Linked DNA regions of Homo sapiens: regions 1 and 2 are each linked to region 3. Evidence: fine-mapped expression QTL. A gene starts in region 3. Each other region holds a variant in brackets. All regions are shown on one strand. Distances are between the middles of the regions.

Evidence for each region. PIP is the estimated chance that this variant, and not a neighbour inherited with it, causes the effect.
Region 1: its variant is fine-mapped to the expression of PRR12 in whole blood (TOPMed, PIP above 0.99).
Region 2: its variant is fine-mapped to the expression of PRR12 in gastroesophageal junction (GTEx, PIP above 0.99).

The regions. Positions count from the first base shown.
Region 1 is chr19:49,628,847-49,637,018 of GRCh38, reverse strand. RRAS (RAS related) reads left to right here. Exons shown (of 6, transcript NM_006270.5): 3 at 93-195; 4 at 292-400; 5 at 1,167-1,285; 6 at 1,359-1,727. The coding sequence ends at 1,443. Among named protein-coding and RNA genes, the nearest start is that of RRAS, 7.2 kb to the left of the region's middle. RefSeq lists enhancers at 258-824, 3,944-4,443. The variant G/A (reference allele first, on the strand shown) is at 3,945.
Region 2 is chr19:50,551,980-50,560,151 of GRCh38, reverse strand. The region is part of intron 1 of LRRC4B (leucine rich repeat containing 4B); the gene reads left to right. Among named protein-coding and RNA genes, the nearest start is that of LRRC4B, 12 kb to the left of the region's middle. RefSeq lists silencers at 3,621-3,680, 3,781-3,890 and an enhancer at 7,479-8,172. The variant G/A (reference allele first, on the strand shown) is at 3,502.
Region 3 is chr19:49,587,831-49,595,971 of GRCh38, reverse strand. PRR12 (proline rich 12) reads right to left here and starts at 4,790. Exons shown (of 14, transcript NM_020719.3): 1 at 4,232-4,790; 2 at 2,533-2,645; 3 at 1,357-1,518; 4 at 1-1,275. The coding sequence starts at 4,317. It overlaps PRRG2 (proline rich and Gla domain 2), which reads right to left. Exons shown (of 7, transcript NM_000951.3): 5 at 7,340-7,475; 6 at 5,920-6,072; 7 at 4,968-5,601. The coding sequence ends at 5,583. RefSeq lists silencers at 2,442-2,541, 4,102-4,351, 4,512-4,841, 5,702-5,861, 5,872-5,971 and enhancers at 3,052-3,131, 3,619-4,118, 7,186-7,245.

The DNA of each region.
Region 1 (8,172 bases), 41 kb before region 3:
GGATGGGGGTGGTGTCAGTGGGGGCTGAGGGCTCTTGGGGGTGACTGCGGGGAGCCTGGTCCCCACGATGGCCCCTCTCCCTGTCTCTGCAGTCCTGGACACCGCGGGCCAGGAAGAGTTCGGGGCCATGAGAGAGCAGTACATGCGTGCTGGCCACGGCTTCCTGCTGGTGTTCGCCATTAACGACCGGCAGAGGTGACAGGGGTTGCTGGTGGCGGAGCAGTGGGTGGGTGTGGGGAGGACCTGGGCTCTGCAGCTGGCTGGACCTCATGCCTCCGGCTTCACTCGCAGTTTCAACGAGGTGGGCAAGCTCTTCACGCAGATTCTGCGGGTCAAGGACCGCGACGACTTCCCCGTTGTGTTGGTCGGGAACAAGGCAGATCTGGAGTCACAGCGCCAGGTTCGGGACACCCCTCTTTCTGGGGACCCCATCTCAGTCTGGGAGGCTCCTTCCAGCACACCTGTCCCCCATCAGCATCCTCCTCTGTTCCTGCAGTGCTGCGACTGCCACTGTCACACAGCTCACCTAGATGGGTTACCCCCAAACTGGACCTTCAGGGTCCCCGGCATCACCGAGCAGAGGGCCTAGCATGCAAGTGTCCTCAGGAGAGGCTGCTGGACGGAACAAAGGACATTCACCCCCCGTCCGCCAGCTCTCTTTGCCCCTTCCTCGCATTCCTCCCTTCCAGCCAACCTCCCACCAGCCCCAGCACCTCCCCTGCTCATGGCCGGCCCCCTCCATGGCTCCCCAGTTCCTCCCCAGGTGCCAGATGCCCCGCACAGTTGCGCCCCTCCTTTCCCTGCTCCCATCACTTCCCCCACAACGATTTCCACACAGAACTCATCCATCTGGCAAAGGCTCTGGGGATTTCCAGGCTTTGGGGTTCCGCCTGCCTCTGCCGGGAACACCCTGACTTCCCTGCCTGCCCACTCCTGGTTATCTAAGGCATAGCAGGGCAAGTGCCCACGAAGCCTGCCCCCATCCCTTACTTAGAAGACACCAAGCCCCTGCGGCATCTCCCTCCATAATCTCTCAGGAGCTCTTCCTCTTTGAGTTCTCACAGTGGGTCACCTCTCCTAGAGTATCCAGCCTGCCTGTCTGTCTCTCTGGCTGCGGTCACCCTGAGTGCAGGGACCTGACTCCCCCGTGTCCCCCCTACCCCCAGGTCCCCCGATCAGAAGCCTCTGCCTTCGGCGCCTCCCACCACGTGGCCTACTTTGAGGCCTCGGCCAAACTGCGTCTCAACGTGGACGAGGCTTTTGAGCAGCTGGTGCGGGCTGTCCGGTGAGCCAAGTCCCCTTCCTGTCGTCCTTGTCCCCAGCCCTTCCACTCCAAACTCACTGGCGTTTTCCCACAGGAAATACCAGGAACAAGAGCTCCCACCGAGCCCTCCCAGTGCCCCCAGGAAGAAGGGCGGGGGCTGCCCCTGCGTCCTCCTGTAGCCCAGGCAAGAGAGAAGCAACCACCACAAGCTCTCGGGACTAGCTGCCTTCGCACCTTGCTGTGTGACCTGAGGCCCTCACTGAGCCTCAATTTCCTCATCTGGGTCTCCCAGGACACATCACATACCCACCCTTACTTCCTGGCCTCTTCTGGGCTACTGCCACTGTGTGCCTTCTGCCAACGCCTCCTGTCCCCACCTAAGCCTGGTGGGGGTGAGGGGCTCCGGGTCACTGCTGTATATAACTCCCCTCCCCCAGAAAAATAAATGTCACTGCCAACGTCAGGAGGTGCTTTCTAAAAAGGTAATGAGGGTCGGGCACTGTGGCTCACTCCTGTAATCGCAGCATTTTGGGAGGCCAATGCGGGAGGACCGCTTGAGTCCAGGAGTTTTTGACCAGCCTGGGCAGCATAGCGAGACCCCCATCTCTTAAAAAAAAAGGGTGGGGGAATGAACTCTGGGAAGGTGAACGAATTCAGGGCACACATGTTCTAAGGCCTCCCTCCACCTAGAACCCTCGCATCTAGAACCTATTGCTTGGGGAGGAGCAGAAGAAGTTTATAAAGCATAACCAAGTGCCTAGACCCCCCACTTTCCCTTCAACAGGGCGATTCTACCCTTTTCTGTTTGTGTGTGTGTGTGTGTGTGTGTTTTTCTGAGATGGAGTCTCACTCTGTAGCCAGGCTAGAGTGCAGTGGTGTGATCTCAGCTCACTGCAACCTCCGCCTCTTGGGTTCATGCCATTCTCCTGCCTCAGCCTCCCGAGTAGCTGGGACTACAGGCGCATGCCACCACGCCCCCAGCTAATTTATTTTTTGTATTTTTAGTAGAGGCGGGGTTTTACCATGTTAGCCAGGATGGTCTCAATCTCTTGACCTTATGGGTATTTTCTTGGGATAAACTTTGAACATCTGATGAAGGAATTTTTTTTCCTAGAAAGTTATAGAATGCGCTCTTCAATATGGTAGGCAGAAGCTACATGTGGCTATTTAAATTAAAATTAAATAAAATTTGGCTGGATGCAGTGGGTTATGCCTGTAATCCCAGCATTTTGGGAGGCTGAGGTGGGCAGATCGCTTAATCTCAGGAGTTCGAGACCAGCCTGGGCAATAAAGTGAGACCCCCCCCCGCCCCCATCTCTACCAAAAATACAAAAATTAGCTGGGTGTGGTGGCACATGCCTGTAGTCCCAGCTACTCAGGAGGCTGAGGTAGGAGGATCGCTTGAGCCTGGGAGACAGAAATTGCAGTGAGCCAAGGTGATGCCACTGTACTCCAGCCTGGGCGACAGCAAGACTGTCTCAAAAAATAAATAAATAAAAAATAAAAAAAATAAAAATAAAGGCCAGGCGCGATGGCTCACGCCTGTAATCCCAGCACTTTGGGAGGCCCACGCGGATGGATCACCTGAGGTCGGGAGTTCAAGACCAACCTGACCAACATGGTGAAACCCTGTCTCTATTAAAAATACGAAAATTAGCCGGGCGCATTGGTGGGCGCCTGTAATCCCAGCTTCTCAGGAGGCTGAGACATGAGAATAGCTTGAACCCGGGAGGTGGAGTTTGCAGAGAGCCGAGATTGTGCCATTGCACTCTAGCCTGTGCAACAGAGCGAGACTCCGTCTCAAATACAACAACAACAACAAAATAAAAAATATTTTAATAAAACTTAGTTCCTCAGTCAAATCAACATTTCAAGACCTCAGTTGTCACATGTGGCTAGTGACTTTTTTTTTTTTTAGACAAGAGTCTCGCTCTGTCACCCAGGCTGGAGTGCAGTGGCAGGATCTCCAGTTGCTGCAACCTCTGTTTCCTGGGCTCAAGTGATTCTCCTGCCTCAACCTCCTGAGTACCTGGGACTACAGGCGCATGCCACCATGCCCGGCTAATTTTTGTATTTTTGGTAGAGACGGGGTTTCGCCACGTTGGCCAGACTGGTCTGGAACTCCTGGCCTCAAGTGATCTGCCCACCTCGGCCTCCCAAAGGGCTGGGATTACAGGCGTGAGCCACCGCACCCAGCCTCTAGTGGCTATCTTAATAGATAGGGCAGATAGACAACATTCCTATCATTGCTGAGTGGGCTATTGGATAGTGCTTTCTAGAACATTCCAATAGAACGTTCTAGGACATTGGAGACAGGCAGCAACTCAGCTGGGTGTGGTAGCTCACGCTTGTAAGCCCAGTACTTTGGGAGACCGAAATGGGTGGATCACTTGAGGCCAGGAGTTTGAGACCAGCCTGGGCAAGAGCTAGACTCTGTCTACAAAAATAGAGACAGGGAGCAACTGCTACAAACCCTGCCTGTCCCACTCTCACCTTCAATGTATATCGAGAAGGGACAGGTGGGTGGAATGGTGTCCAAGCAGCCGTCTGGCAAGTCCTCATTTTCAGAAAGTTCCCAGTAGCACTGAAATCTGAATCTAAACACTTAATCCAATTTGGGGTCAGTGTGGACATCCCCCATCCAACCCCCTATTCTGTCCTGGGAGAAGCAGAAGTGTTG[G/A]GTGTCTTAAGGCCACAGTGGGTAAATGGATGACACACTTCAGTCTGGATACCCAAAGCCCATCTGTGTCCTAGGAACACTTCGTTTTTTACATTTTATTTATTTATTTGAGACAGGGTGTCACTGTGTTGCCCAGGCTGGAGTGCAGTCGCGTGATCACAACTCTGTAGCCTCAACCTCCTGGGCTCAAGCAATCCTCCTGCCTCAGCCTCCCAAGTAGCTGGGACTACGAGTGCACACTTGGCTAATTTTTCATTTTGTTGTAGAGATGGGGTCTCGCTATGTGGCCCAGGCTGGTCTTGAACTCCTCCCTTTAAGCAATCCTCCTGCCTCGGCCTCCCAAAGCTCTGGGATTTACAGGCATGATCCACCATGCCCAGCCTGGGGACACTTAGGACTCTCCCACATCCAACCTAAGCTCTGGTTGGGGGAGGAGCAGTCCTGCCCACTATTTGCTACCCTGGAAGGCTGAAGCCAACTGGAGACCACTGTCCACCCACCTCCCAAGCCTGTGTGACCGGCCATCTTTAAAGCCCCAAATCTACCCAACACACCAGGCTAAAAACCTCAACCGGCCGGGCGCGGTGGCTCATGCTTGTAATCCCAGCACTTTGGGAGGCTGAGGCGGGTGGATCACAAGGTCAGGAGATCGAGACCATCCTGGCTAACACAGTGAAACCCCGTCTCTACTAAAAATACAAAAAATTAGCTGGGCATGGTGGCAGGCGCCTATAGTCCCAGCTACTCAGGAGACTGAGGCAGAAGAATGGTGTGAACCCAGGAGGTGGAGTTGCAGTGAGCCGAGATTGCGCCACTGCACTCTAGCCTGGACGACAGAGCGAGAGTCCATCTCAAAAAAAACAAAAACAAAACAAAACACCTCAACCGAGATGTCCCGATGCCCTGAACTTGAGGCTCCACCTGAAACCTATCAGCAGTCAAACATCTGCTCCCTATACCCAGGCCCCTGATCCCTGAATGCTCTACTCGCACCCACCCTGGAACCTGCTTCCTAGTCCTAGGGTGGAGCATGGCCTTTGCGTGACCGGGATGCCTGAATTCAAATCCAGCTCTGCCACCTCAGTCTCATCTGTAAAATGGGGGTAAGTACAAAGCTACTTCACAGGGTGAGCACGAGACTAAAGGAGACGATTGCAGAGGAGGAATGAGCCCGGCGCATACTAAGTGCTCACCATCAATGACTGTGGCTGACATGTCTCCATTCTGCCCCAGAACCATGAATGTCCCTCTGTATCCCGGATTAGAACACGGATTAGCAGGCTGGGCGCAGTGGCTCACGCCTGTAATCCCAGCACTTTGGTAGGGCAAGGCGGGCGAATCACCTAAGGTCAGGAATTCGAGAGCAGCCTTGCCAACATGGTGAAACCCCCCTCTCTACTAAAACTACAAAAATTAGCCGGGTGTGGTGGCGGGCGCCTGTAATCCCAGCTACTTGGGAGGGTGAGGCATGAGAATCGCTTGAACTCGGGAGGCAGAGGTTGCAGTGAGCTGAGATCGTGCCGTTGCACTCCAGCCTGGGCAACAAGAGCGACACTCTGTCTCAAAAAAAAAAAAAAAAAAAAAAAAACTGATTAGCTAAATATCCCTTTCCGGGTTCTATTATCACAGAATCTTTGGCCTGTTCTCAACCTTCTGCCCTGGGAAAAAGTACAGCTCGGATGTACTGTCACATGTTGGCTCTCTTCCCTGCTAGGAACTCTGCACACCAGGGGTCCACCCCTGCTGGATGGGGAGTGGTGGGGCAAGAGGGTGGGCAATGTTTTGATCAGTTTCCAAACAAGCTCTGACACTTCCACCTAAGCCCCAGCTGCGGGTACTGAGCCCCCAACAGGAAGGAGTCCTGTGCCAACATCTCTCTTCCCAGATCTCACCATCCACATGCCCCCTGCAGAGGATCAGAGTCTTTCCTGCACTGCCCGATGGGGCCAACTTCTTGGCTGGGGCACCCTGCTTCTAGTAGGACCAAGATGCACTTTGAGAAGGTGATTAAAGTTACCGCTTGCCCCCCAAATGCTCAAGACAACTGGCAGACCATTTTTGGAAGGTTTACAGCCACCAGTGTCCCAAAGATCAACACACAACAGCAAAAAGGCTGGCATCTCCCTAGGTACTGTTAGTGCCAGAAATTATGTATTCGGTTCCTCCCCTCCCCTGAGCTCTGGCAGGCCCTAGCAACGATTCTAAAGCTTTCCAGGTTTTGATGTCCCCATCTTTTTTTTTTTTTTTCAAGACGGAGTCTCACTCTGCCGCTCAGGCTGGAGTGCAGTGGCGTGATCTTGGCTCACTGCAACTTCCATCTCCCAGACTCAAGCAATTCTTCTGCCTCAGCCTCCCAAGTAGCTGGGATGACAGGCACCGGCAAGCATGCCCGACTAAATTTTTTTTTTTTTTTTTTTTTGAGACAGTGTTTCACTCTTGTTGCCCAGGCTGCAGTGCAATGGCGCGATCTCGGCTCACCGCAACCTCCGCCTCCCGGGTTCAAGCGATTCTCCTGCCTCAGCCTCCTGAGTAGCTGGGATTACAGGCATGCGCACCACCCCGGCTGATTTTGTATTTTCAGTAGAGACGGGGTTTCTCCATGTTGGTCAGGCTGGTCTTGAACTTCCGACCTCAGATGATCGTCCCACCTTGGCCTCCCAATTTGCTGGGATTACAGGCATAAGCCACTGTGCCCGGCCATACCCGACAAATTTTTGTATTTTTAGTAGAGGCAGGGTTTCACCATGCTGGCCAGGCTGGTCTCGAAATCCTGACCTCAGGTGATCCATCCACGTTGGCCTCCCAAAGTGCTGGGATTACAGGTGTGAGCCACCACGCCCGGCCAATGTCCCCATCTTTATCTTTCTCTGTGTCTCTTTGTTTTCTGTCATGTTGTGGACCTCTGTTAAGCTTCTCTAGATCTCCTGCTACAGGTCACAGGAGCTGCAGGCCAGGTGCTCCAAACCGGTTGTCTTCCTTCATTTTGACAAAAGCCCATTTAATGGATGGCAAAGGTGAAGATGGGGTCTGTTACCCAATCTGCCTGGTTAGTGCTGCAGCTGGGATTCTAATCTGGGCAGCTGGATGCCAAAGGCCAACCACAAGGTGATTCTGTCCCTAAAGGGATGATTCCTGACCTCACTGTCCACGCTCACAACACTCCACTCCCGGCCGAGCGCGGTGGCTCATACCTCTAATCAATCCCAGCACTTTGGGAGGCCAGGGCGGGTGGAGTACCTGAGATCAGGAGTTAGAGACCATCCTGGCCAACATGGTGAAATCCCGTCACTACTAAAAACACAAAAATTAATTGGACCTGGTGGCACGTGCCTGTAGTCCCAGTTACTCAGGAAGCTTGAGGCAGAAGAATGGCTTGAACCCAGGAGGCGGAGGTTGCAGTGAGCCAAGATCATGCCACTGCACCCAAGCTTGGGTAACAAAGCGAGACTCTGTCTCAAAAAGAAAAAAGAAAAAGAATACTCCACCCGTTTTCCATCCTGGAACTCTGACCTGGGACAATGCCAATCCTTTGGCCTCAATTTTAGCTTTTTTTTTTTTCTGGAGACATGAGGATCTCGCCATGTTGCCCAGGCTGGACTCAAGCAATCCTCCTGCCTTGGCCTCCCAGAGTGCTGGGATTATAGGCATGAGCCACTGTCACCTGGCATTTGGCCTCAGTTTGACAGTCTAGTCCAGGACCTTGAATGTATGGCTTTCCATCAAAGGCTGCACCCCCACATGCTATAGGCCACAGTTCAAGCACAATAATGGTTTGTACTCAGCCCTCTTAACTCAATGATTCTAGAAAGTTCATGATCCTTTTTAAAATTTTTTGAGATGGAGTCTCACTCTGTTGCCCAGGCTGGAGTGCAGTGGCGCGATCTGGGCTCACTGCAACCTCAGCCTCCCGGGTTCAAGCGAGTCTCCTGCCTCAGCCTCCTGAGTAGCAGGCACAAGCCACTATGCCTGGCTAATTTCTGTAATTTTAAGAGAGATAGGGTTGGCTGGGCACAGTGGCTCATGCCTGTAATCCCAGCACTTTGGGAGGCCAAGAAGGGCAGATCATGAGGTCAGGAGTTCGAGACCAGCCTGATCAACATGGTGAAACCCTGTCTCTACTAAAAATACAAAAATTAGCCGGGAGTGGTGGCATGCACCTGTTATCCCAGCTACTCACAAGGCAGAGGCAGGACAATCGCTTGAACTTGGGAGGCGGAGGTTGCAGTGA
Region 2 (8,172 bases), 960 kb before region 3:
ATTGTTATTGTTATTTTGAGACAGAATCTCACTCTGTCACCGAGGCTGGAGTACAGTGGTGCGATCTCGGCTCACTGCAACCTCCGCCTCCCAGGTTCAAGTGATTCTCCTGCCTCAGCCTCCCGAGTAGCTGGAACTACAGGCAGGTGCCTCCACGCCCAGCTAATTTTTGTATTTTTATTAGAGACAGGGTTTCACCATGTTGGTCAGGCTGGTGTCAAAACTCCTGACCTCAAGTGATCTGCCCGCCTCAGCCTCCCAGAGTGCTGGGATTACAGGCGTGAGCCACTGCGCCCGGCCAGAATCTGCCTCTTAACAAGATTCCCAGACAGCTGGACACACATTCATGTCTGAGAAGCATTGCTCCAGTTCACATAGTTTTCAGCTTTTTATGACTTTTAGCAGCACCCTTTTGTTGTAAACAAAATAACTATGCACAACCCTGTGAGAGAAAACAGATCGGATCAGCGTCCTTCCTAGGCAGGACCCCTATGAGTGGAGCTGGCGGGGGCCACGCCCCTCCCAACCTGCAAACTCGCTCTCACGCCCCACTGCCTGAGCCTTGGCAACAAATACTGTTGTAAAAACCACCAATGCCAGGCCAGGGCCCAGTTCTCTTCTGGGGTGAATTCAGTTCAGGGGTGTTAAGCCGCCCCATCCCAGCACAGAATCACAGTCCAGGGACCTGGAAGTTCAGTTTTTTTTCTTTCCTTTTTTTCAGACAGAGTCTCGCTCTGTTGCCCAGGTTGGAGTGCAGTGGCGCCATCTCAGCTCACTGCAACCTCTGCCTCCTCGGTTCAAGTAATTCCCCTTTCTCAGCCTCCCCAGTAGCTGGGATTATGGACGCCCGCCACCAGGCACGGCTAATTTTGTATTTTTAGTAGAGGTGGAATTTCAGCATGTTGGTCAGGCTGGTCTCAAACTCCTGACCTCAGGTAATCCGCCCACCTTGGCCTCCCAAAGTGCTGGGATTACAGGCGTGAGCCACCACCCCCGGCCCTCTTTTCTTTTTCTTTTTCTTTTTCTTTTTTTTTGGAAGTTCAGTTTTTATCTCAAAGCCTACCCAAATCTGGCTATCCATGGGTATGGCAGTGCCTCAGTGTGCCCTTCTGTAAAATGGGCAGCAGCAGCTCTCGCCATGGGCCCCTTGCGGGGACTGAATGAGCTCTTGCAGGCAGCTCCCGCAGCGCAGGCCTGGCACAGGCAACCAAGGCAGCGCTGGTCAGGTGCTCAGGCCTCAGACTCTCCATAACATTCCATTTCTCCAGCTGTGATCTCCCTGGCTTCTCCATGAGTCCCATAAGAGCCCTGTGAGGTAGCTGGGCAGGGCCAAGGAGCAGACGGAGCGGCACTTCAGGGACTCAGGCAGAAGCAGTTCCAAGCAGGATCAGTGGTTAGATCCATGCTGTCCAACACAGTAGCTGCCACAGCCACTGCCATGCATGAGCAGCAACAGTCACATCAAGTCGAATGAAGAATTCAGTCCCTGCTCCTTCTCGACATACGTCACGTGCTCCGTAGCCTCGTGTGGCTGGTGGCCACCAGTGCTGGACAGCACGGAGAGAACATTTGCATCATTGCAGAGAGTCTGTTTGACAGTGATGCATTGATATATTGAAATACAGCCGGGTGCCGTGGCTCACGCTTATAATCCAGCACTTTGGGAGGCTGAGGCAGGAGGATTGTTTGAGGCCGAGAGTTTGAGACCAGCCTGGGCAACATGGCAAAAGCTTATCTCTACAAAAATACAAAAAAATTAGCCGGGTGTAGTGGTCCACGCCTGTAGTCGGCTACTCAGGAGGCTGAGGTGGGAGGATCACCTGGGCCTGGGAGGTGGAGGCTGCAGTGAGCTGAGATCACGCCACTGCACTCCAGCAGAAATTTGTGTGATGTGTGTGTGTGTATGTATGTATGTGTGTGTGTATGTGTGTGTGTGTGTGTGTGTGTGTGTATGTATACAGTTGACCCCTGACCAACTTGGGGGCTAGGGGTGCCAGCCCCCTGTGCAGTTGAAAATCTGCCTGTAACTTTTGACTCCCCTAAAACTTAACTCCTAATAGTGTTCTGTTGATTGGACACCCTACCAATAACATAAACAGTCAGTTAACACATTCATGTTAAATGTATTCTATCCTGAATTCTGACAATAAAGTAAGCTAGAGAAAAGAAAATGTTATTGAGAAAATGCTAAGGAAGAGAAAATACATTTACTAGCCACTAAGTGGAGTGTATCATCGTAACGGGCTCCCCTGATTGTCTTCACGTTGAGTAGGCTGTGAGCAGGAGGAGGGGGCGGTTGTCTTGCTGTCTCAGGAGTGGCAGAGGCAGGAGAAAGTCCACATATAAGTGGACCACACGATTCAAACCCCTGTCCTTCAAGGGTCAAGTGTAGTCCTCCGCTGGCTGGTAAATAGCTCACCTCAGCCCTTCCTGGGTCCCCACCACCCCCCACCCAGCCCTCCCAGCCCTCTTCTGAAACCTGCTGTTAATTCCCATTTCTCTGATGAGGAAACTGAGTGGCCACAGGGTACTGTTCCTAGCGGAAAATTGGCAGCACCGGGGGGTCGGAGCCCAGGTTTCTGCTTTTCCTGGCTTCCAGCCAGGCTCCGAGTCCTATATGTCACTTGCTGGTCACTTGCTGTGTGCCAGGCCCTACTTGGGCCCCCTTGCCACAGCCCCATGCAGCATCATCAGAGAGGCTGCAGCTGGCCCAAAGTGGCACAGCCAGGGACTGGACGGGAGCCGGGTGGGCGGTGTGTCCCCAGCTCCCCTGCTGCCCTGTGGGTGTGACCAGAGCGAGGCACCGCCTGTGAGTGGAGATTGGGGCTGGGGGGCCTGTGGCAGGGACTTTTGCATTCTCTTCTCCCCGTAACTGCTTCCCGCCCCACATCCTCTTCTGGCTTTTGGAATTTGACCCCAGATCTATAAGAAGAGCCTGGCTCCTCCCTCTCCCTCACCTCCTACACCGCCTCCAGGTTCTGCCACTTTTACAAATTTGCTTTATCTGTTCACTCTTTCCCTTCTCTCCATCCCCGTGGCTCCAGCCGCGGCCTCATCCTCTACCCCCGGACCCCTGGCGCAGCTCCTCCCTGGCCTCCAGCCGCGCCGCTCCAGTCCACTCAGAGGGGTCCTTCACCCACCAGAGCTGAGCCTGCCCCTCTGTTGTCACAGCCCGTTGTGAGAGGAAGGAGGGCCCCCCCGCCCCCGGCCCATTGCCACGGCCTCTGTAACAGCTCGACATTCCCTCCTCCCGGCTTCCCTCCTGGACGTTCCGGGGCCCACCCTGTGCCCGCCCTCTCACTTAGCCCTCGGACGGCTCCCCCACCCCCACACTTGCCTCCCTAGAGACCCAGGGCTCCTTGCCTCGGGTGCCAGCAGAGGAACTGCCGGTAGGGGGCGCTGGCTCGCTCGTTCCTGCAGCAAATACTGAGGCTCGGAGGGGCCAGCGCCGTTGGCCGGCCTTGAGGATGCAGCCGTGGACGCCGCGGCAAAGCCCTCAGG[G/A]GCTCCCCTCTTAGCAGGAAGGCAGGCAATGAACGCAGGAACAAATCACCGAGCATCAGGTGCTGGGTGGCCGTGACACGAGCTGTGAAGAAAAGGAAGTGCAAGGGATACGGACGGTAGGGGGAGCTCAAAGAAGACCTCCTGGAGGTGTCGTGGGAACGCAGAGCCCCCCCTGACCCCAGGAAGAGCACCCCCGGCTGGCCGAGGGCACAGCAGGGGCAAAGTCCCCTCAGGGGAACGGGTCTGGTGTGGATGGGAAGAGCCTGGGTGGGAGGCGCCTGGTGGGTGGGAGGAGCCTGGGGGAGAGCGGCGTGGCTGCACGGGAAAGGACAGCCCCCCTCCAAGCAAGTCACCACCTCACCCCCACCCACTGCACCTCACCCCCACCCCGACTGCACCCCCACTGCACGGGCCGCCTGTTGGTCCTGCTGCCCAGTGGCCAGTGGCCCGGGAAATTCGTGAGCTGAGCCAAGCCCCTAGTCCTGCTTCCTCATCAGCAGCTCCTAGGGGGCCTGGACTGCCCTTTCCCTAAGGTTCTTCTACCTCCAGACATAGAAGCCTGACAATTCTCGGCGCTGTGGGGCTGCTTTTATTTTGAAAGCATTCAGGACATGGATTGGCTCAGAACGCCAGCGCTGCCTGTCCCCTCCCCCAGAACCCGGGTCTCTCCCATAGGACCGGCTTCCAGGGACAGAAGGGCTCATCCCTCCCCGGCTTCAATCCCTCTCCACCCTCTGGGCTCCAGGCTCCACTTCTGCCCCAGTCCCTCGCAGTGGGGAAGTTCTTCTCTAGCTCTAACCTCCAGGCCTCTTGCTGCAATGGTAGTCAATTTCCTATCTTCCCTCTGGCCGTCTGAATTTAGCCCCCCACCCCACCCCAAAAAATGAGTGCGCCTGACAGGAACGTTCCCTGCCTCCCATTTCTCCTCACCCCGCCTCTCCTGGGTCCCCGAGTTTCCGATCTGCCATCTGCCTGAATCCTCCCAGGCACAGTGCCCGAGATCTCTCAGAGCTGGGGCTGGGGAGGATGGCGAAGCCGGTGAGGACTCAGCTTCACGCCTCGAGTGCCCGGGCCCTCCCAGCCTCTGCCTTCGCCTGGATCTCAGCTCCATCTCGGGGCCTCCTGTCCTCCTGCCCCTTTCATGCCCCTTTGTATGCCTGTGTCTGTCTCCCTGTGACTCTGCCACTCTCTGCCCCTCGTACTTCTCCTCTTTGGGGTCCTTCTGTGTCTGCACCTCTGGCTTGTTCCTTGCACCAGGTGAGGGAGGAGAACAGGTGTACCCTTGTGATGGGTCCTCTCCCGGGGCAGCTGCGGTGGGAGAGGCAACCGTGGTGACCTGGCTAAGTTCTGGGACTGGGGTTCCAATGCCGGCTGTGCTGCTGGAGGGCTGTGTAACCTTTGGCAAGTGCCGCTCACCTCTGAATCTGTAAAATGGGCACAAGAACCATCCCTTCCTCCCAGGGCCGTGGGGAGAAGCCAGCAGCTTGAGGAGTGGATAGCATGGCACCCACATGTAATCAGTATTTCCCATCACTACTAGGGGTGCGTGGGGGCAGAGGGCAGTCCATGGAGCCTCTGCCAGCCGGGCGTGAAGCCGTGGTGGGGTGTCGGGCGTGTGATATCCTGTGCAGTGCGGGTGACTGCAGGGGCTGAGGAAGGGTGGCTGTTCAGCATGCCTGTGGCCTTGCCTGCACCCTGCCCCCCACACACAGGCAGCCTCCATGGGAATTGTTGCTGCTGTCAGGCCACACTTGGGGGTCTTTGGGGCCCCTGGACTCTGGCAAGGCTGACCTAGGAGGGGCCACTTCCTAGCCGTGTGTTTCGCATTAGGCAACTAACAGTACCTCTGTGTGTCTCAGCTTTGCTAGCTGGGAACTGGGTGTAATAGCAGTCTTCTCTCAGAGGGTTGATGTGAACTGCGGTGGCTAATGCAAGTAAAGCTCCCAGAATGGTGCCCAGTCAGTGCCAGATGTGTGTTGGACGTTACCACCTTTGGTGGTGTCATTATTCAGTGAGTTCACGCAAGTCAGATGTGTGTGCGGAAGAGATGAGGTTAGCCAGCATTCCTGTTATCCAGGTCAGAGGGCTCTATCTGGGGACAACTGGGGCCAGGTGCCCTCTCAGTATGCAGCTGTATCCAGGAGTGTAGCTCACGCAGGTGGTATCTGAGGTTTGGGCAGAGTGGTAGCTTTCCTCTGGGTGCACGGAGCTGCGCTGGGGACCTCCTGTTTGGAACCTGAGGTGTAGTATCTGGGACTTAGCCATCCGGGTGGTGCTGGGGCACGGAGGGTGACCCAGGGCATGGAGGGTGACCCGGGACATTGGTGTCCAGCTGACGTGAGATGTGTGCTTCCTCGGCCAGGTACGGTGGCCCACACCTGTCATCCCAGCACTTTGGGAGGCCAAGGCAGGTGGATCACTGGAGGTCAGGAGTTCAAGACCAGCCTGGCCCACATGGTGAAACCCCCGATTCTAACTTAAAATACAAAAATTAGCCGGGGTGGTGGTGAGCGCCTGTAGTCTCAGCTACTCAGGAGGCTGGGGCAGGAGAATTGCTTGAACCCAGGAGGTAGAGGTTGCCATGAGCTGAGATCGCGCCACTGCACTCCAGCCTGGGCAACAGAGTGAGACTCTGTCTCAAAAAAAAAAAAAAAAAAAAGGTGCTGCCTCTGCCAGCAGGCCTCCTGGGATGGAAGGGGACCTGGGGACCGAGGGTGTCCAGGGCTGGGAGCCTGCATTGTGCAGCTATTGCAGTGCGGCCTGGCTCGGTGTGCAGAACGGAGAGTGGGGGTATCTGTGTGTGAGCGTGGGGGGAAATAGACTCACAGTGATGATAACGTACCCATCCGTCCCTGCACCCAGTGTTTGGTGAGCAACTGCCATGTGCCCAGCACTGTTGTGGGTCCTGGGAACCAAATAGTCACAAACTGACTGCCCTCGGGAAACTTGCCTTCAAGCGCACGGACCCATATAAAAGCTCAGATGCTGATAAATGTCATGGAGAAAAAGGAAACAGAGAAGGTTCTGGAGAGGGATAGGGGTGCTGTTTGATGCGGGGCGGTCAGGACGGCCTCACTGAGAAGGTAGCATTGGAGCACGGACCTGATAGAGAGCAGGGCAAGAGCCCTGTGGACAACCGGCAAAGAGCATTCCAGGAAAAGGGAAGAGCAGGTGCAAAGGCCCTGGGGCCGGGGTGTGCACGGCCTGTTCTGGAAACAGCGAGTGAGCAGGGGGAGGAGGGAAGCGATGAGGTCAGAGGAGGAGCTGGGGTGGAGAGTGGAGACCTGAAAACTGAAGTCCTCATCTCTGCTCTGAGTGGGACGGGAGCTGTGGAAGGCTGTGGAGCAGAGGCGGGGCAGGGTCCATGGGGTGTTGACAGGATACCCCTCGCTGCCCGTGGGGAACGCACGGGGAGTGGGGGTGAAGGCAGAAATGGGGAGGCTGGAGGGGAGGACACTGTAATCGTTCAAGAGGGAGATGGGAGCCAGGTCAGGGAAGTAGCCTGGGCGTGGGGAGAAAGATCCTCTGATTCTGGGGTCTGATTCCGCATATGTTGTGAAGACAGAACTCTTTACCAAGGATTTAGCGATTTAATCCCCACAGTGGCCCTAGGAGGCAGATACTCCCATTATCCCTGTTTCACAGTGGAGGGAACTGCAGCTTGGGAGAATAAGCCACCGGCCCGAGGTTACACGGGAAGTGGCAGCAGAGTCAGGACTCAAACCCAGGCCTCTCGGCACTCACCAATGTGCCCCACTCTCGAGAGGTGCCTTTTGTGGCCCATGGGTGTCCTGGGCTAGTGTCTAGCACATAGCAGGGACTGGGTAGACATTTGTTGGACAGATGGATGGAAGGATGGATGGGTGGACGGATGGATGGATGGATGGATGGGTGGATGGATGGGCGGAGGGATGGAAGGACGGATGGATAGACGGATGGACGGATGGGCGGATGGATGGACGGATGGATGGATGGATGGATGGATGGATGGATGGATGGATGGACGGATGGGCGGATGGATGAATGGATGGATGGATGGATGGATGGATGGATGGATGGACAGATGGATGGACGGATGGGTGGACGGATGGATGGACGGATGGATGGGCGGATAAGTTGAATGAATGAACGTGGCTGCCCTGCAGATTTTGCAGAAGTGTGTCAGGAGGTGGATGTCAGGATCTGGCTAAGGTCCAAGGGAGAGGGGTTCCTCTAGGGGTGGGGGCCTTTGTGGCATGGAGAGGGGCTGGCCCTCAGCCACGGGACGGGGTGACGGTGCAGGGCGCAGGTTCCAGTGCCGGTATATCAGGTGTGGTATATCAGGGTTGGAGTAAAGGCTGTGTGGCATGGTGGGGGTTCAAAGGAGTTCCTGGGGTACAGGGGCATCTGCAGGAAAACGCTGGGCAAGATTGTGTGCCTAGACCCAGTGGGGGGTGTGAAGCTGGGGGGTTTTGGCTGGAAGTGGGGGCGAGGGGGTCAGTGGTGGCCCAGCCCGGTCATGCAGCCAACGAGGCTGTCTGTGTGCCATGAGGCTCCGGCTTGGCACGGCCCAACCACCCCCCTTTCTTGGGCAGCCCAGCCGGCAACCTTCCTCCCCCGCTTCCCCCGACCTTCCTCGGCTGCCTCCTCGGCTGCCCAGAACCAATGGGTTAATTAGATAACGGAGCCTTT
Region 3 (8,141 bases):
CCCCATGGCCCGAGAGCGCTGGGGAATGGCCGGTACTGTAGCTGAGCGAGGGGCTGGCTGTGGGCAGCCCCTGGGAGTGGGCGGCTGGCCCTGGGTATGGCTCGCCCTGCACCCCATACAGCTGCCCCTGCAGCTGGTCCGGGGAGTAGCTCTGACATGTGGCCAGGCCAGGAGGAGGGGGGCCGCTGGGGGGCTGTGGGGGGCCCCCTGAGTAGCTGGGGGCTTTGCTCAAGTCCTGTGCCTGCCCCCCTCCAAACCCTTGCCCGTAGGCCTGGGGTCCCAGAAGCCCTTGAGGCTGACCGGGGGAATAAGCCTGGCCCCCTGCCCCTCCAGCCCCAGAGGCCTTCCCAGTGGCATAGGCGGCTGCTGGCCCACCCAGGCTCTGACATTTGGGGGTGGCGGTCGAACGGGGTGGGGGGGGCCTGGTGGCACCCCCGGCAGCTGCTCCATAACCACCTTTGCCCGTCTTGTACCCAGGCGACTGAATGATGGGGCGGTAACCTCCACCACCACCCCCAGCCCCACCGCCCCCTGCTGCCTCAGGGCCCGTGGCCCGGCCAGATGCCCCAGCCGTGGCTCCGCTGGGACCAGCCTTGCTAGGCTCCCCAGCACCCGGGGAGGGCTCCCCACCACCCAGGGGGCTGCAGGCCAGGTTGGCCCGGTGGCCCATGGAGGGGTAGCTGCCTCCACAGCTCAGATAGTGCTGGAGCGCATGGGCTGGTGGCGGGGGTGGTGGGGGCTGGGCACTGGCTGGCCGCTGGTAGTGCTTGATGACCGTGTCCTGGCGTGGCAGGGCCCGCTCAGGCGGCGGTGGGCCCGGGGCAGCACCCGAGAAGTTATAGAGCTGTGGGGAGGACTGCTCGGCAGCGGCGGCGGCAGCGGAAGAGGAAGCCAGCAGGTTGAACTGAGTTGGGAGGTGGCGAGGAGGTGGTGGTGGGTCTGGGGGGCCAGGGCGGTAAGGGGGGGTCTGGGCTGGACCGAGACCAGCTGGCCCCAAGACACCGCCCCCTGCCAGGCGCTCGAAGCCCAGTGAAGAGGGCACCGTGGGTGCCTGCGAGGGCTTCAGGTGCAGCACGTCATGAGGGGACAGGAGCCCGTTAGCTGGAGGGCTGAATGGGGGGTCCTGGAGGCTGAGGGACGAGGGCACTGGGAAGGGGCGGCTGCCGAAGGAAGCCGGGTGTTGGTAAGCCGACAGGGCAGATGAGGACGGAAAGGTGCTGGAACCCGGCAGGGCACCCGAGATGAAGAGCTCCGTGGGGCCTGGCGTGTGCATGGCTGGAGATGAGGAAGACCGCGCGTCAGAGAGAACAGCGAGCCAGTCCCACCCTGGCCCTGCAGGGCCGGCGCTGGGCTTACCTGTTTGCCAGGAAGGACTGCGGAACTGGGAGAGGAGAGAGGAGGCGGAGGGGCCAGGCTGGGGGCCCCGGGATTCCAGGGCCGAGATAAGGTTCATGACGGAGGCGTCGGGCCCTGCTGAGCCCGCGTGGTGGAGGCCAGTGTCGAAGAGTCCAGAGAGGCCTGGCCGGGGACAGGGGTTATAGTCAGCCAGGTGGGGGTGGGTAGGATACAGTCAAGAGAGAAAGGGAAGAGGCCAAAAGCAAGTTGGATCAGGAAAAGGAGGGGATGGGAGAGAAAAGGGCAAATTCAAAAACAAGATGGATAGAACCAAGCTAATGAGACATGAATGAGGGGAGGGAAGGGGGAAAGGTGAGACAGTAAAGCAAGACAAGGGGCAATCCAGTCATAAGGACAGGGGGCCCAGGTAGGAAATGGTAGACAAAAGTGTAGAAAAATCTAGAAGCGAAAGAGCCAGGAGCAAAAGAACAGAGTCCTCAGTAAGGCTGGGAGGGAGACCAAATTTGGATATTTCCAGCAAGGAAGAGGAAAGGATGGGACAATGAAGTCTAAGAAAGACCAGAGAACGTGTCAGAAAGGATTGAGCTAAGTGGGAGGGTTCAGAAAAAAAGATGGGGAGGGAAAAAGGGAAGGAGCCAATCAGGAGGGTCAAGGGTCAAACTGGACAGCATCATGTCATTACCAGTACCCCTAGGAAGAGGGAACCAATCAGAAACCTTGGAGGCAAAGGCAAGGTGGGTAGAATAAGGCAATGGGGCAAAATAAGATAAAACAGGGCGGGCCAGAGAATTAGAGCCAATCAGGAAGAAAGGGAATCAGGAAGAAAGAATTCAGAGTTCCAAAGAGCCAAAAGAATAGGGCAAACCCAGAGGGAAAGAATTGGGGTGGGTTGGGGAGAGGCGGAAAAGCCTGGAAGAGAAGGTGGGATTTGGGGGCTGATGGTAACAGGGCCAATTGGAGCGAAAGGGGAGGGGCGAGGCAGGGGCGGACGAATCCGGCGAGAAATGAAGCAGCGACCAGCAGCCTCAAAGGCAACCAATCAGAGGAGACACAGCAAGGGGCGGGCCACGGCACGGGCCACGGCCAATTAGGAGGGGCGGAACTTTCAACAGCCAATCAGCTGCCTCGGGGGGAGGGGGAGGGCCAGCCCAAAGCGGGGCGGGATGGGGGCCGTACCTGCCGGGTGGTGGTTGGTGGCATAGCTTTGCAGTGGGTGGGGGGCCGCATAGGCCTGGCGGTGTAAGATGTCCGTCTCGGGGTGCGAGGTCCTGGAGCTGCCATAAACCAAGCTGGGGGGAAAGGGGAGACGTCAGGGGGTTCTTCCAAGCTGCCTTCTGAGAAGGAAGCTCAGAAAACCCCCCGGGGAGTTGGGGGGACCCTTCCAGCTGACCGGGGTGGGGGGTGTTAAGCTAAGGAACCGTAGGCCCTAAAGGGGAGAACACAAGGGAATCGGGGTGCTCAACTAAAGAGCCACAGAAATGGCCCCCACTCCAGAGCCCGAATAAAGAGAGCCCGGATAGTCTCACGTTTACAAACAGGCATGCTCAGAGACGAGACTAACACACAGAAGAGGGTCCAAGGCAGAGCAAGCGTCTTGATTTGCAAATGAGAGCCCTCCCCCGTCGACCCCACAAACCCCCCCCAGCCCCCGTTCCGGCGACACAGGCTATGGGGCCAACGCCAGAGGTCCACATGGACGCCTCCTCTTCCGTAGACACACGGGAACACATAGGCCCTGAACTTCATGGGGTGGTGCAGAACAAGTTGGGAGCAGGAGGAAGATCGGTTCCCAAGCGGCAACGGTTTGGGGGGTGGAGAGAAGAGGGAATAAGACCTGGGGAAAGTACCAGGTACAAGTGTGAACAAGAACACCGACCATCCCCGGGGGTTGAGGTTCAAATGCATGGGCCCATGCAATGCCAGGTATGTGTGCAAACGGGTATCCAACTCACCCGTGGGGAAGAAAAGATATAGACGGAGGAATCCCACACGGAAAATCCTGACACACTTGGGGTTATGCCCTGCTGGGAAATCCAGGTGTGTTGGGGGGGAGGTGCTGGGGATAGGTGAAGTGTGAGGGCGCCACACCAATAAGCAACAGGAAAGGGGCAGATTCACAGGTGAACACGCTGCCAGCCACGCACGCACAGGGCCCACGCTCAGACACACAAACACACACCCGGGAAACATCCGACTCTTCCCATGCAACGGCACCAGTCCGTGGCCAGACTCAAGAGGGCAAACGCTCCACTCCTTGCGATCAACTAGGATTCTCTGCCTTTGGGGGTGGGGGCATTAAAGGGGGCGTGTCCCAGACGCCTGACCCCCTCCCTTACACACACACAACCCCAGCTTAGGAAGGGGGCGGGGCCCCGTGCCCACTCTGCGCGCGGAATTCTTGGGGGGGCGCCTAGTGGCGCGGCCTCGCACAGTCCCGGAACAATAGGACCTGAGAGGGGGTTCGCGCCCCCCAGATCTGCGTTCTAATTCTTCTCTTCTTCCCACCTTTGCAAGAGCAGTGCCTGGGGCGCGGGGGGGAGGGGTCACCAAGCCGGGAATCCAAGGATGGGGGGAAGTCCAGGCCTTGCTTCGCCAGTCCCTCCCACCTTCCCAAGGCCTTCCCGTCCGAAATTGTTTTGCACCCCCATTTTCCCGCTGCAATTCTCCCTTTGCATGCCGGAGCTGGCTTTGGCGGAGTTTGCAATTTGCAAACTGGGGCGGCGGCGTTGTTACAAACCGAGGAAGGCCGCTCCCTTGCAAGCCGGAGGGGAGTTTGCGATGCACGCGTCGCCGGGCGGGCCCGGCCCGGCCCGGCCCGGCCCGGCTGGGCTCCCACCCCTTGGCCCCCTTCTCTAGGCCACCCTCAGCTCCTTACCTAGCTTTCGCTGACCTCTCGTAACTCCATCCCGCCCCGGCGCCGAGCGGGTCCCCGAAGCCGGCGCTGGGGTAGTTCCTGTCCATGAATTGGCCGCGGTGGAAATTGGGGGGAGGGGGAGGGAGGGAGGGAGGGAGGGGGCGCGCGCGCGCTCTCCTCCGCCGCCGCTCCCTCCGCTGCTGCTTTTTTTTCCCCCCTTTTCTCTCTCTCTTTTTTTCTTTGCAGCCGCCGAAGGCCCGGGAAGGCCCCGGGCGGGGGAGGGAGGGGGCAGGGGCGGAGGGGCGGGCAAGGGAGGGGGTGCAGTCGCTGAGCCAAGGAAGGGGGAAGGGGGGTTCCCCCTAGAGGAGGGAAGGGGGGAGGAGGGACCCCGCTGTCTCCGCCTTTGCCCCGGCGCTTGCGAGAGAAAAGGGGGGGCGCGCGCTCGGGAGGGGGCGTCCCGGGCGGCCCCGGGGTGGGTGCAGGCGCTGGGTGCTCGCTCTCTCGCCGCCGCCGCCGCCGCCTCCTCCTCCTCTGCGCTCACGGTGCAGCCATCTTTGCACAAGGCGGCTGGGGGAGGGGGGAGGGGAAGGGGGGGCGGGCGGCGGGGTGTCTGGCTGCGCTCCGCTTCCTCCCACAATCCCGTGCAAATGCAAAAAAAAAAAAAAAAAAAGGGAGAGTGAGAGAGAGACTGAGCGCGAGCAGGGCCTGGGGGTGTAGGGCGCGTTTGCACAGAAAACCAGTTCCGATGCGCCCGGGATCGCAGTTCATTTCATTATTATTTTTTGCATTATTTCTGCTTTTTTTGGTCTCCTTTCCGAAGGGTTTTTATTTAGGGGAACAGCTCAACTCCAGCTCCCTGGGTGCAATGCGAGCCTGCCCGCACCGAGCGCGCTTGCAAATATGCCCCCCGCCCTTTCCCTGGGTTACGAAGTGCCCCTGTACCGCACGGGGAGTGCACGAAGACACGCGTGTGCACAGGCGGGGCTCTGCGTGTGCGTACCCTGTGGCACTGGAGGGGGCTGTCAGGTCATATCTGCCCATACACAAGATGGCACAGCCGGGGCTGGGCTCCTGGGTCCGAATTTCCCCGCGCGTCTGCCTACCACGGGGGCGGAACTGACCAGTGCCCTCACGGTCAGGAGAGTGTGGGGGCCCGTGAGGGGCCAGGACACGGGAACACGTTGCCGAAAACATGTGTATATCCATACGCGGCGGAAACGCGTGTGCCAGGGCAGGCCTCGGGCCGGATGACCCCTACTCCCACCATTCCCCACTCCAAGTCCAGCTTCGGCGTCTATGAGGCCTAGCGGCTTCCGGAATCCGGTATGAATCAGGGGCACGGTTCGGAGAGCCGGGTCTCGAAAGCAGCTCTTCAGTGAGGCCTCCTGAGGCTGCAAGAGGAAAGGCACACTAGGGAGTCAAAGATCTGGCTGTTTTTCTCCCCCCTTCAACCAGGACCACTCCGACCGCCCTTGGCGTCTCAGCCAATCCAGGACCCTCTGGGCACAGGCCCCACCCTCCTATACGGCTCCACACATACAACGCTGGGCCACGCCCCTAGACCATTGCATGGGGCCCCGCCCCCGCACTCCAAGCCCCGCCCCAGGTAAGAAGGCCCAAATTCCAAGTCCCGCCCCTGAGCCCAGGTTCCTCCTCCAACGTGCCCACCCCTCTGCGCCCCGCCCCCGGGCAGAAGCCACGCCCCATACCTGGTGTAGGGGGGTGGAGGTGCGTCGTGTACCCCAGAGGCTGCCAGCGCCTGCTCATAGGTGGGGAGGCCTGGGGGTGGGGGTGGGGGTGGAGGCAGGGGCGTCGGTGGGCCCAGAGGGTTCAAAGGACTCAGAGGGCTAATGAGCCCGGCCCTGGGGACAGCAAAGGTACAGTTAGCAGAGGCAACTTACAGGATACCTAGACTAGGGAGGAAGAGAGGGGATCTAGGAGACGGAGACTCAGGGTGACACTGGGACAGAGCTGGAAGGGAGGTGGACTTCAGAAAAGGAGGGTCACCTTCAGCCTAGCCTTACACACAGAAAAGCGCCTCAAATGACAGGCAGCTGCACACAGACAGGTAGACACAGAAATCAGCAACCACAGAGACACACTCTTATTCAGACACACTCATGTGCACCAGATACAGGCAGAGCAATAGAGAAAAAGACAGCCCTGCCGGGTGCATGGCGCACACCTGTAGCTCTAGTTCCTCAGGAGGCTGAGGTGGGAGGATTTCTTGAGCCCAGGAAATTGAGGCTGCAGTGAACTGTGAACCGGCCACTGCACTCCAACATGGGCAACAGAGTGAGACTTTGTCTTTTTTTAAAAAAAAAAAAAAAAAAAAGGGCCAGGCGTGGTGGCTCACACCTGTAATCCCAGCACTTTGGGAGGCCAAGGCGGGCAGATCACCTGAGGTCAGGAGTTCGAAACCAGCCTGACCAACATAGAGAAACCCATCTCTACTAAAAATACAAAATTAGCTGGGCGTAGTGGAGTGCGCCTATAATCCCAGCTACACTGGAGGCTGAGGCAGGAGAATCACTTGAACCCGGGAGGCAGAGGTTGCAGTGAGCCAAGATCATGCCATTGCACTCCAGCCTGGGCAATGAGAGTGAAACTCCATCTCAAAAAAAAAAAAAAAAAAAAAGACAGCCCTGTAGAGAGGCAGGCCAACACACACCAAACAGACAGAACTCAGCCCATCCATATAGACAGGAACACAACACAGACGCACTCCTCACCAATTTCCCACACCCACTCAGGTGCTGCACCTGTTACCACTGAAACTGACATACCACAGACACCAAGACACCACAGGCTGCACCGTCGCAGCCTCACCAGATACAATATCCAGAGTCGTAATTCCACGGATACTGGTAATCTCAGTACCGCAAAGACAGGCTGGCAGCAAAAGTGGTCAGAGCTCCTACTGCGGGCCAGGTACTGAGGATCCAGACAGAGCGACAGTCGCCAAAACCAGACACAAGCCAGCTCACAGACTCACTCTCCAAATGACTGTGTCCTTAGGTCTTTCATCAGTGCCTGCCTGCCCCCAATCCTTAGCACATCCCTTTAGGTCAATGCTTCCTCCCTCCCCTGCTCTCCACCACCACCCCCTCCTCGCTGAAGCCCCCTTACTCTTGGGGACAGGGCTGCTGGCCTCGGTGCTGTCGCCAGCGCAGATACCAAAAGGCTCCCAGGCCGGCCAGGACAATGAGCAGGATGCCACCTGTCAGCCCCACAGCCAGGCTGGCCACATCCACTCGTCCACGCCCTGCAGGAAAGTAGGGAAGGGGAGACACTGTCTCGGGGACTGCCACCCACCCCAACATCAAAATTCCTTCCCACTGAGGGAAGAGAATGGACCCGGAAGCAGGCAGAGCTGGGGTCCCTTCCTAGCCCTGTGACCTCAGGAAATTCACCTCATTCCTTTCTCTGACCCTCCACTGCCAGTTCTGTAAAATGGGAACCATAACCCCTACCCCACTGTAAAAACCTAATGAGATTAGGCTGGATGTAGTGGCTCATGCCTGTAATCCCAGCACTTGGGAGGCCTAGGCAGGTGGATCGTTTGAGGTCAGGAGCTCAAGACCAGCCTGGCCAACATGGTGAAACCCTGTCTCTACTAAAAATACAAAAAAATTAGCCAGGCATGGTGGTATATGCCTGTAATCCCAGTTATCTGGGAGGCTGACACAGGAGAATCGCTTGAACTCAGGAGGTGGATGTTTTAGTGAGCCGAGATTGAGCCATTGCTCTCCAGCCAGGGCAACAAGAGTGAGACTTCATCTCAAAATAAAAAAAAACAAAACAAACAAACAAACAAAAACCAAAAAAACAAAACTATGTCCTGGCCAGGTGTGGTAGCTCATGCCTATAATCCCAGAACATTGGGAGGCTGAGGCAGGCAGATCACTTGAGGTCAGGAGTTTGAGACCAG